2 separate regions of the Homo sapiens genome follow, and region 1 is linked to region 2. Evidence: fine-mapped expression QTL. A gene starts in region 2. The other region holds a variant in brackets. All regions are shown on one strand. Distances are from middle to middle.

Region 1 (5,381 bases), 240 kb before region 2:
TGGCAGTGCTAGGACACGGGGTCTTGTGAGAGGTGTTTGGGCCATAAGGGTGGATTCCACATGAGTAGATTAATGCCATCTCCCAGAAGTGGGTGAGTTTGGTCCCTTTATACATGCCTGCTTGCCTTTCTATTTCTTCACCATGTCTTGATGCAGCATGGCCCTCACGAGAAGCTGAGCAGATGCCAGCACCATGCTCTTGGACTTTTCAGCCACCAGAATCATGATTCAAAATAAACCTCTTATATTTATAAATTACCCAGCCTCAGGTATTTTGTTATAGCAACATAAAATGGACTAAGACGGACATTATCGTGGTTTGAATTGTGTCTCTCTAAGTTCATATGTTGAAGTCCTAATTCATAGTATATTAGCATGTGGCTGTATTTGGAGATAATGTCTTTAAATAGGTGATTAAGTTAAAATGAGGCTGCTAGGATGAGACCTATTCCAATCTGGTATCCTTGTAATGAGAGGAGATTAGGACACACAAGGCAACACCAGGGATGTGTGCACATGGAGGAAAGACCATGTAAGGACACAGTGAGAAGGTCCTCCATAGGGTGGGGGTGAGGGGATGGTGAGTCCAATTCTGGGGTTGAGTCTGATGTATTTATGGGACTTCCCAATGTACACCTGTAGGCAGGTGTACATGTGAGCTTAGGGCTCTGGCCTTGAACTAATGCCCTGAGAATAATCCACGCAACACATTGACCAACTCTGTGGTAGGCGTTGTGCTCTGGGCAGGTAGCTGATGACCGAGGGCCTGGGCACAGCTGTGAACATGTGTGGAAGGGCACCTGCTGCTGCTGAGGACCAGGGCGGTTAAGGGCTTGGCTGTCCAGTGAACTATGGATCCCACTGTATTGCTCTTGTTGGAGGCCTGCACGGGGAGTGATAGAACCTGGCTAAAGCTGGGAGAAGGAGATGCAGCAAGAGATTGAGGCAGCTGGGTAGTGCAGTGGGAGCAGAGGGATCTGCCAGTTCCCACAGGAGAAGTCCCAAGTCCTTCTCACCCTCCCCAGGCCCCTCATTGCTGGGCCACATCAGCACATGGTTCCTGCCCTTGGAGAGTCAGGCATGTAGACACATACATTTCCCCTTGAGCAGCCAGCAGGGACATTTTCATCATATCAGGCCAGATCACTATGGCCTCCTTTGTGGAGGCATCCCTGACTCTGTAAACAGAAGTAATCACTCCTTTCCATGGGATCCTATAGTATTTTGTGTGCAAATTTTATAGGTCTTACTCCACGTCCTACAATTACTTGCTTATAAGTCTGGACCCTTGGAGCACAGGATCTGGTTCAGTCCCCTTGCAGGCCCAGCATGTGTCTTAGTCAATGGCTGGCATAAGAGGAGGGCTGTCATGGAAGAAGAAATAGTCTTGGCCAGAGAAGTTGAGCTGGCCCTGGAGGAGGATGGGACAGGGAGGGTATTTGGGAAAAGATCAGGGTGGGAGACAGAGATAGTATTACAGGAGAGAGAGCTTTTGGAGGTGATTTGAGGGGGGTCCTGAATTTCTAGGTCTGAATTTTTAGGCTGGAGGCTGTTAACAAAACTCTTTTATATTATTTTATCAGATTCTTAGGATCTTTTCTGGTTTGAATAAATGCATCTGTAAAGCCACACCTATGTGGCTAAAGGTTAAAAAATAAATTAACGAGTTAGGTACAGAATTTCTTTTAAGCCATATTCTTACCTTCAAGTTCCAGCTGAAAGTCAGCAGCTCAAAGGCCCACTCAAGGGTCAGTGGGCACGGAAAGGACTTTCACAGGAAGCAGACGGCAATTGCAGAGGCTCAAATTACTACTGTGTCAGAGTTACGGGGGCGCTCAGCAGGTAGCCAGCACTTTGGGAGGCTCTCAGCTTCAGTGTGGGAAGTTGAAGCTTTTACTGGAAGAATCCGGATTGAACAGAAACAAACCCTGTGACCTGGCCCTGGGAGGGAGAACTTCTCACTGTACCATGATCACTCATGTGACCCTGACTGCTGTGCAAATACCAACTCCCTCTAGTTCATATGAACTAAGGGCACACTCTACTCCTCCTCTCGGTCACCAGCTAGAGTTTTTCACATCTTTCCTGGCCCTCAGCTGCCTGGCCCCTCCCTCCTCCCACTGGCCTCGAAGCTTAAACAGGTGGGGGCTGGGGGGAAATGGAAGGTTGGCTCTAGGACCAGATGCATCAGGCTTCAG[G/A]TAGGCTCCTGCTTATTTGGTGAACTCCCTTTTCCTTCCTCCTTAGCCTGAGATTTAATTTCTGCATCTATGAAGTGTGGGTAATACTGCCTGTCTCCAATCCATGCTTTAAGATTGAAAGCAACAATGTTGATGAATACACTTTGCAGAGCAAATAGTAAGTGCTTAAAACTGCTGGTTCTTCTTTCCTTTCTTCCCAAGTTGTATTCATCCACACCGAAAATGCAGAGAGGATAGAACAAAAGTCTAGAGCTTAGGTGTGTACTTATTTTTTCTTTGCCTTATTGTACAAAAGGTACACTTTAGTGGAGGCAGATTATATTCCATGGTGTCTTTGGTTACCTGGGAAATTAAATGGATCAAGTGTTAATGATCTCTGAACTGCTACTCTTCTGCCAGCCCCAACCTTGTATCTACCCCAGTGCTTTCCTTTCTGGAATTGAAGCATAATTCTGCACCCCATCTGCCCTTCTTGCCAAAGCTTTCCTTGTCTTCTTTGACCCTGAACCTCCTAATGCTTCTTTGCCGACACTTCTTCTTCCTCCTTGTTTCCAAAGGGCTCTTTTTTTCCCAATAAATTGAACTTTCTTTTTCTTTCTTTTTTCTTTTTTTTTTTTTTTTTGAGATGGTGTTTCACTCCTGTTGCCCAGGCTGGAGTGCAATGGTGCAATCTTGGCTCACTGCAACCTCCGCCTCCCGGGTTCAAGCGATTCTCCTGTCTCAGCCTCCTGAGTAGCTGGGACTACAGGCGTGCGCCACCATGCCCAGCTAATTTTTTTTTGGTATTTTTAGTAGAGACGGGGTCTCACCATGTTGGCCAGGCTAGTCTCCAACTCCTGCTCCCAGGTGATCTGCCCGCCTTGACCTCCCAAAGTGCTGGGATTACAGGCATAAGCCACTGCGCCCGGCTGAACTTTATTTTTCTACTTCTGCTCTCTTTCCAGTTCCACTTATCCCAGTGCTGTCAATTTTCAGCCCCATAGGGCTGATTCACAGTTCTTAGTGCAACCTCACATTTTCTCTGCAGTTAAAGTCCCTAAGTCTACTAAAGTGTCTGCCAGTATCGGTGCCATGCTGCGCTGCATGCTGCATCTCCCTGCCTTTGCTGTCTGCATGGGTCACAGTCTCTACAATCCCAGAATTTACAGTTAGTAACCACTGCTAGTATCTGCTTCCTCCACATTTGTGGAGGATGAACTGGGATGTTGCACAATCTTCTAGCAGTCTCCTTATTTCTGGTCTCTTCCCTACTAGTCTCTCATACTTTCAGCATATAAATTAAGCTCAGCTCAGATCAGGCTATCCTTTGGTTGTTTATGGCTCAAATTCTGGGTGCTTCCACTTGGAATTCAAGACCTTCTAAATTCATTAATTCTTATTTTTTATAAGACAGGGTCTCACTCTTTTGCCCAGGCTGGAGTGAAGAGGCATGATCATAGCTCACTGCAGCCTTGACCTCCTGAGCTCAAGTGATCCTCCTACTTCAAGCCTCCTGAATGCCTGGCTCAAGGCCTTCTTTAATATAACACCATCCCCACCATGGGCCCCACACACCAGGTGAACTGAATGACTTACTGTCCCCTGTATGCATCCTATAATTTCCTGCCTCCCTGGTTTACTCCTGTTTCTCCCTGCCAAAAATGCTCTTACTCTTAGCCTGGCACACTGCTGTGCACCTGTAATCCCAGTTACTTGAGTCCAGCCTGGGCAACATAGTGAGATCCCATCTCTAAAAAAATGTTCTTACTCTGTTTCCATAGAGTCAGATTCTTCAGCTTTGAACCCATCTTTTCCTTGAAGCCTTTCCTTAGGTTATAGCTGGAAGCAATCTCTCTGTGAACTACCATATGCTTTTTTAAAAATAAGTTTTATTGAGATCAAATTCACATACTGTGCACTTCACCCAAGTGTACAGTTCAATGTTTTTAGTTGTGCAACCATCATCACACTCAATTTTGGAATATTTTCATCACCCCAAAATGAAACCCCATATTTATTAATAGTCATGCCTAATTCCTCCTACCACCATCTCCAGCTTTAAGAAACCAAAATCTACTTTGTGTCTCTATAGACTTGTCTATTGTGGACATTTTATATAAATTGAATCATACAATGTGTGGTCCATAGGATTAATTTGGCCTTCTCTTACAGCAATTTTCTGTTTTTACTTGAATGAGGAAATTAACTACCCTCCCAGTGTGTCGATTGGGGCCTATCTCTAAGACCACCTGTACCATGTACCCATTCAACTGGATTAATATACTTACTGAATGAATAAACAAATGAATGAAACAAAAACTTTAGTTTTCACCGGGACTGGGACTTGAATGAGGGAACTAAGGTGCAAAATGTAAGGAGACACTCGCTCCAGGGCCGTGCAAGAGAATGAATGCCTCCTTCAATGCTATGCCCTTACCTCACCCTAGTCCCTGCCCTGGTTTATACATAATCCATCCACATGGATTTTTCCCTGATTTGTGATTCATGTACCTCTGGAACTTTCTGAGCTGTTTCTGAGAACCAGGTAAAGTGTGCCTTCTTTGGAGTTAGGGGAATGTCTACACGGCAGCCTCTGTCCCGCTAGAAAGACCAAAGTCACTATTGCCTCCTGGAAGAGTTTTGTGAGGGATCTGATCATGGTTTTCAATTGGGAAAAGTAGCCAAGCTGCTTTGTGCCACTGGCACAAAGTGGAAGGTGCCTGTGTTCCAGCAGGCTGGCTTTGAGGAGCAGCGGGAGCAAAGGTCTCCCCCCGGGACATAGCCATTCCTTCTGGGTGCTATGTCCTACAGCTGCAACTGCTTCAGGCAAGCTTTGTAACACTTGCCTCAGTCACACAGATCCTTTGACCAAGTCCACAAGAGAGCAGATGAGCTCTTTCCTGCAGGTGGTGAGGTACTAGGTGGGCAAACTCTGACTCCTTTGTAACTTCATGGATCTCGCTTATTATCCAGGAAACTGGCTCAGCATTCTCCTGGCTTGTGCTCCCTTGTCGTTTAAATTTTTTTCCTTCTGTTTTTGACCATCCGCAATTCACATAATTACATGTCTCTCAAGCCATTTTTCTTACTTTGCAATGCTCATTGGCTTTAATTCTCCCTTTCTCTTTTCTTGTCTAATTCTTGTCCAGTCACCCAGGGAAAGATGGAACAAGTCTTTTTCTCCCTCACTTTCTACTATCTCCT
Region 2 (5,381 bases):
TTGCCAAATCTTACTTCTCTCATTTACAAAATAAGAAAAATAAGAGCATTTACCTTGTCATCTGGTTATAACAATTAGATCACACAGATAAAGTGCTTAATGGAGTGCCAGACACATAGAGAGCATGTACAATGTTAAGAATTACCATGATCAGAGAAAGGATTGCTTGTGAGCTGTAGGAAGGAGAGAATGTATTTTAGGAGATGATGCTTTGGGAGGAACTGCAGTTCCCAGAACATGCCTGTCTTTCCAGCCTCAGAGGCAAGCTTTAGAATCTGTTGCTCTGTGCCCTCTTCCCAGCCCTCCCTAGCCACACACAAGATCACTGCTTCTCAAATCCTGGATGAGAAAGTGCCAGTTTTTCTTTTTCTAAATTCCCAATCCATTGTAGACTACATCTTTTTATAAAATACAATTGAAAATAGTTATTAGAAACAAACAAATATAAAAACATAAAATAGAAGTCTGCTGATCACATTTGGATATTTGTCCAATTGCTCTAAAAGCTTCTTAATGCCTACTCTCAATTTTATACTTATCTTGTTACGATAACAGGCAGTTTATGAATTGACACCCATGCATGGTACTTGCTTTGAGGAGCACTGGTCTAGATTGTCCCATGACTTCTACTCTTCCTTAAGTCTCATTGAGGTGTCCCTTGCCCTCAGTGATGGAAGCTTTCTTCCGTCTCCCCAAGATTGGACCAGTTACTTCTCCAGTGCTTCCCTTGCACACTGTGCTTTCCCAGAACTTAAAGGGACTGTGTCTTTTTCACCTTCCTATTTTCATTGCTAACAAGACCTGACACACAACTGATTCTCAATAAGCACCAAAAGAATGCAGAATGCATTTATTTCAAGAAAGTAGAGAATTAAGGTGCATATTGTTCAACTCCGTAATTTCTAAACTTGGGTTGTGATCATTCTTGGCAATAATTAGACTCACTGCCTCTTTGGAAAAAATACTTTCTTGGCAGGAAAATGAAATTAATAAACAACAGTATATTTAGGCCCTGAGGAAGTCTTATTCATAGAACTTACCCAGAAAGTAGATTTTATTCATGAGCTTCAGGAAGGAAATTGAAGGCTTAATTTATATTTCTTTCTCAGAAGTAGATGTATAAATCTTTGGAAACTTTTTCTATCTTTGAAATATGTTGCCTTAGACAAGCCTTGATTCTGATGATTCATTGAAGACTTACTAAGAGCATAAATTGATGTAGAGGACAGTTGATCCAAACACCAACAAGGGATAATAGAAATACCAGCGGCTGCCTCACCAAGGGAAAAGAAATGACTTTTAGGGATAACTTCTTTTTCCCTTATGGATAAAGGAGAAGTGTGAAAATATGTTTCTATCTTCTCCATGTAGTTTTGGTACTACATCTTTGAGAGAAGAAATTGCTAATCTCCATTTAATAGAATAGGTCACTGAGTGGCCAAAGGAAGAGAAAATGCTGCTCATTTGAAAGGTTACCAATTTGGTTATCACTTTCTGGATGAGGGTCAGTATTTCCTAGTAATTCAGACCAAATAAATGTTGAAGATATGTCAATGAACTAAGCACAGAGCCTACTGTTCCTTGGCTTTGCTCTGAGAAGAGAAGCGATCTCTTCTTCACTGAAGACTTTTCATCTACCCCCGCCCCTCCACTGTTGTTAGCAGGGACATGGATCCAAGACTGGGAGGAATGAATCCCTCCCCATGCCCCAAACTTCCTGTCTGTAACTGGTAAATGGGGCTCAGGTTGTGCTTGTGATGCCAAACATCTTGGGACAGACCAGGAAGTCTCCTACTATTAGTGGGAAATTATGCACAATCTAATAACACAGACCCAGTGGCACATACCTTCAGAACAAGAAACTTTCAGGGCTGTGGAGTAAGAGCCAGGCATATGGACCCCTCATGTGTACACTGTACGTGACTTATGGATTGGGCTGACAGCTTTTCTTGCCCACGCATACAGCTATTTATTTCTATATGTGTATAGCTTGTTATGATTAACAAATTCAACATTTTATATAGAACTTTTATATGCATCTCGTAACTTTTGCCAATATGTTTTTCTCTCAACAGATAATGCAAGTACCATTGCTCTCATTTATGGGTTTGTGAATGCTGAGATTAAGAAGGAATCGTGAGTCTCTACAAGGTTGGAGACTGTAATGTGCCCTGCCTGGCTGGCTCTGGCTTCACACTCTGCATTGTGTGTGCAGGGAGCTTCTGGACACTCTGACGAGGATCTGGTTACCTCTGCACAACACAGAAGACAGGTTGAGGAAGACGGAAAGCTGAGGGGCTTCTTCAGGGAAAAATAATCTCAGCGTAGCATCCCTGTAAGCCTGTCTCCATCTTACTTGAAGGTGAGTTAGGGACACATGGAAACCCTTATGTCCCCAAACATCCCCCACATATGTTCTGAATGTTCCATGCTCCTGTAACCAGGAGAGCTCACCCTTCACTGTGGAGAATCCACAGTAGACTGGGCTCCAAATACCTGGTTTACGATGAAGCCCTGTTAGTTTACTGCCACGTTGAAGTGACACATCTCCCGTGTTCTTTTCTTGAAGAAACACCTTGATTAGAAGAGAAGGCGTGAGGTTTAAGGAATCTGGGAAGGGAAGAGAGTCCCATGGAGGGAAGAACAGTGTGGGTTTTTGTGCCATTAATTTAGATTTTAGGCATGATGGTTTTATGTCAACATGGAACAGAAGGGAGGAGTCAGGAACTCTCATCCAGCAGAACAGGATGGGGTGGATGGTGGTCTGCGATGGAGGCAGCGATTCAGCCAGGTGGGAGAGGCCCAATGTGTTAGTACAATTCCAAACGGTCCTGTTTGAGGCAATGGCTGGCCCTGGAGCTCCAAGCTGGCCCTAACAGCAGCATAGAAGTAGAGGCATGAGGCTGTGTGCAAGTGGAGAGCCCTGTGGGCTGCAAGTCAATGTTCAGGGCGTCTGCTTTGGAGAACAAGGATCTCATCACTAGATAGACTTTTGGGGACTGGGCTCCAAATACTAGGAGAGGGGTGGACACAAGCCTTTAACATCATGGGATGACAGCCAAAAGCCGAGGGAGATCATGGATCTAAGTGATTACAGGAGGGACATGTGGCAACAAAGACTTCTTGCGGGCTACCATGGGAACCCAGTGCATAGTACTGCAATATCAAGATTTAGGATGAAGATAAGAACTAAGTCTTGGGGCCATAATGATGGAAATGACAAGGCCATAGGCTGAGGCAATTTGAGTACAGCTAAATACTGCCCAGCCTGTAATTGAGTCTGTTTGCTATGGTGGTATTGTTACTGTGCCTCAGGACAATTTACTAAGGAGGGCTTCAGACAGGGAAGTTGGTAGTGATGCCTTCAAAGAAAGGAAGTCCTCTGAACCTCCACCCGATCCCAGGGAAACATGGCCAGCTTTGGTCTAAGACATTCAGCCTCTTTAGCATAGCAAAATGAAGCTATTCTTGTGTCCCTCTAGTGCAAAAGTTGTACATTAAGTTGAAGAGCCATATCATAGCCACATATAAAAGGTTTCTTTACTGTGGCTGTTTTCCTCTGTGCATAACTGCTCTTTGAGAAGATGGGAAGGTGGGAGCAGTGATATCACAGTAGGATTTAGGCATTTCTAGGTCTCTTAATTAAAATGTCACCAGAACTTCCCTTATTACCTCCTCCACTGTGAAACTCACCATGCATAATGAGGACAGGAGATTCTGCCACAGTTTCTGGCACTGGAGAAAATGAAGTGAATCATTTTCTCTTCAAATCAGCAAGATAGACCTTGTTTTTTACCAGTGCTTGGAGTGGACGCAAGGAGAGGGGAGGATCTTTTGGCCACCCTGTTCATCCTTACGACATTGGTGGAATAAAAAGAAAGAGACAGAGATAGAAGAAGAGGCCTAACCAATTATGTTTTCAAGATTGAGTCCCTAGAACACTGGGATTGAAACCTGACATGTCTAGGTCACTTCCATGGGTGATGGGTCCCTCCTGAGAGGTAGGGAGTATGATAAATATGTAGGATTAGCATTTTACTAGTGCAGGGACCTCTTATTCAACTGCTCTATCTCCAGAACTGAGGCCAGATCCTGACATATGGGAGGTCTATAATAAATATTTGTTGCATTTATAAGTGAGTGTCCTTTTTCTCTCAAAGGCTGACAAGGACCTCTGAAGACACATTTACTTACTCAATAGCTTCCATTCAGCTTACCATTACCAGCAATGAGTAGTTTATACATTCACAATAGTCCCGATAAAACAGCATAGCCTAAGATCATTGTTTCTGGAGAGATTTTGAAAGACTCCAGTGAGAAGCACTGTCTTCATTGTAAGTAAGTAGATCTGTTGCGACACTTCCAAGGCGAAGATAGCCAGCTTCAAAACCTATGTCATACTTATATTTTTGATAGAAGGTGTGTCTGTATAATAGCACCTCAAGGAACATAAGAAAGCATTTTCATTCTATCATATGAAATATACCCTACATATTTATCATTGCTTTTTTGGGAGGAATTAATGAAATCTGTGACATGTACCCAACAAAAGTTGAGGGTGAATGGAGTCACTGCTGGTACCAGCCACAGGGTGCTCTGTTGCTGCTGGGTTTAGAGGGGGTTGCTTCAATTTCTTGCTTTTTTTTTTTTTTTTTTTACCTGTTTTTGTGTCTTTCCTTCTCATTTTCAAGCTCTGTCTCTTCTCATTTTTTTTTTTTGCGTTTTTTTTTTACGTGCTATTTTCCTTTCCTTTTATATTCAGCTCTGTTCTGGAATTCCCCAAGTGTTCCTCCCCACTCCAGTAAACCGCATGCAGAGCAATGGCACACAGGAGGCATTCTCAGCTTCACATTTGGAATGAGCCAGTCTAAGAGATCATCTTCTTAGGAAGGGACAGAAAGGTTCTCCCTGAGGTTATGCCAACACAGAGATATTTATCAACTAGTTCTTACCACTAGAATTGGACATTATATCAGAGCAGTTTCTTGAAGCTGTGTCTAATATGTGTAGTCACTGAACAAAACTATTTGTTGACTACGTGACTGGCTACTGAATGTATATATAAATAGGCATGGTAAATTTTACAACTTGACATAAACAAATGTAGACTACTTGTAGTCATGCCAACTGAAAAGGGTGAGCAGCTTTTCAAAGATTCCATCAAATCTCAGGAAAGCAAAAGCCTCACATTCCTTTTTCTCTATCCCCAGGGACTTGCTTGGATTTCTCCAAATCCATCGTTTGTGTTGTGCCAGGCCATGACTATTTCTCTCTGTGATAAATACTTAATGCAAATGGCAAGCCATCCTGAGGGAGGCTGGCATCCGTACCTACTGAGAAGGCCAGCAAACAGTGTGTGAAGCACCGACGTCAAAGGCCAT

The links.
Region 1: its variant is fine-mapped to the expression of LINC01593 in kidney cortex (GTEx, PIP above 0.99). The same link has a PIP of 0.9 or more in stomach.

What each region holds. Positions count from the first base shown.
Region 1 is chr2:108,285,392-108,290,772 of GRCh38, reverse strand. It overlaps SULT1C2 (sulfotransferase family 1C member 2), which reads right to left and starts at 1,878. Exons shown (of 8, transcript NM_001056.4): 1 at 1,703-1,878. The variant G/A (reference allele first, on the strand shown) is at 2,199.
Region 2 is chr2:108,049,615-108,054,995 of GRCh38, reverse strand. It overlaps LINC01593 (long intergenic non-protein coding RNA 1593), which reads left to right and starts at 2,241. Exons shown (of 3, transcript NR_135071.1): 1 at 2,241-2,362; 2 at 5,211-5,381.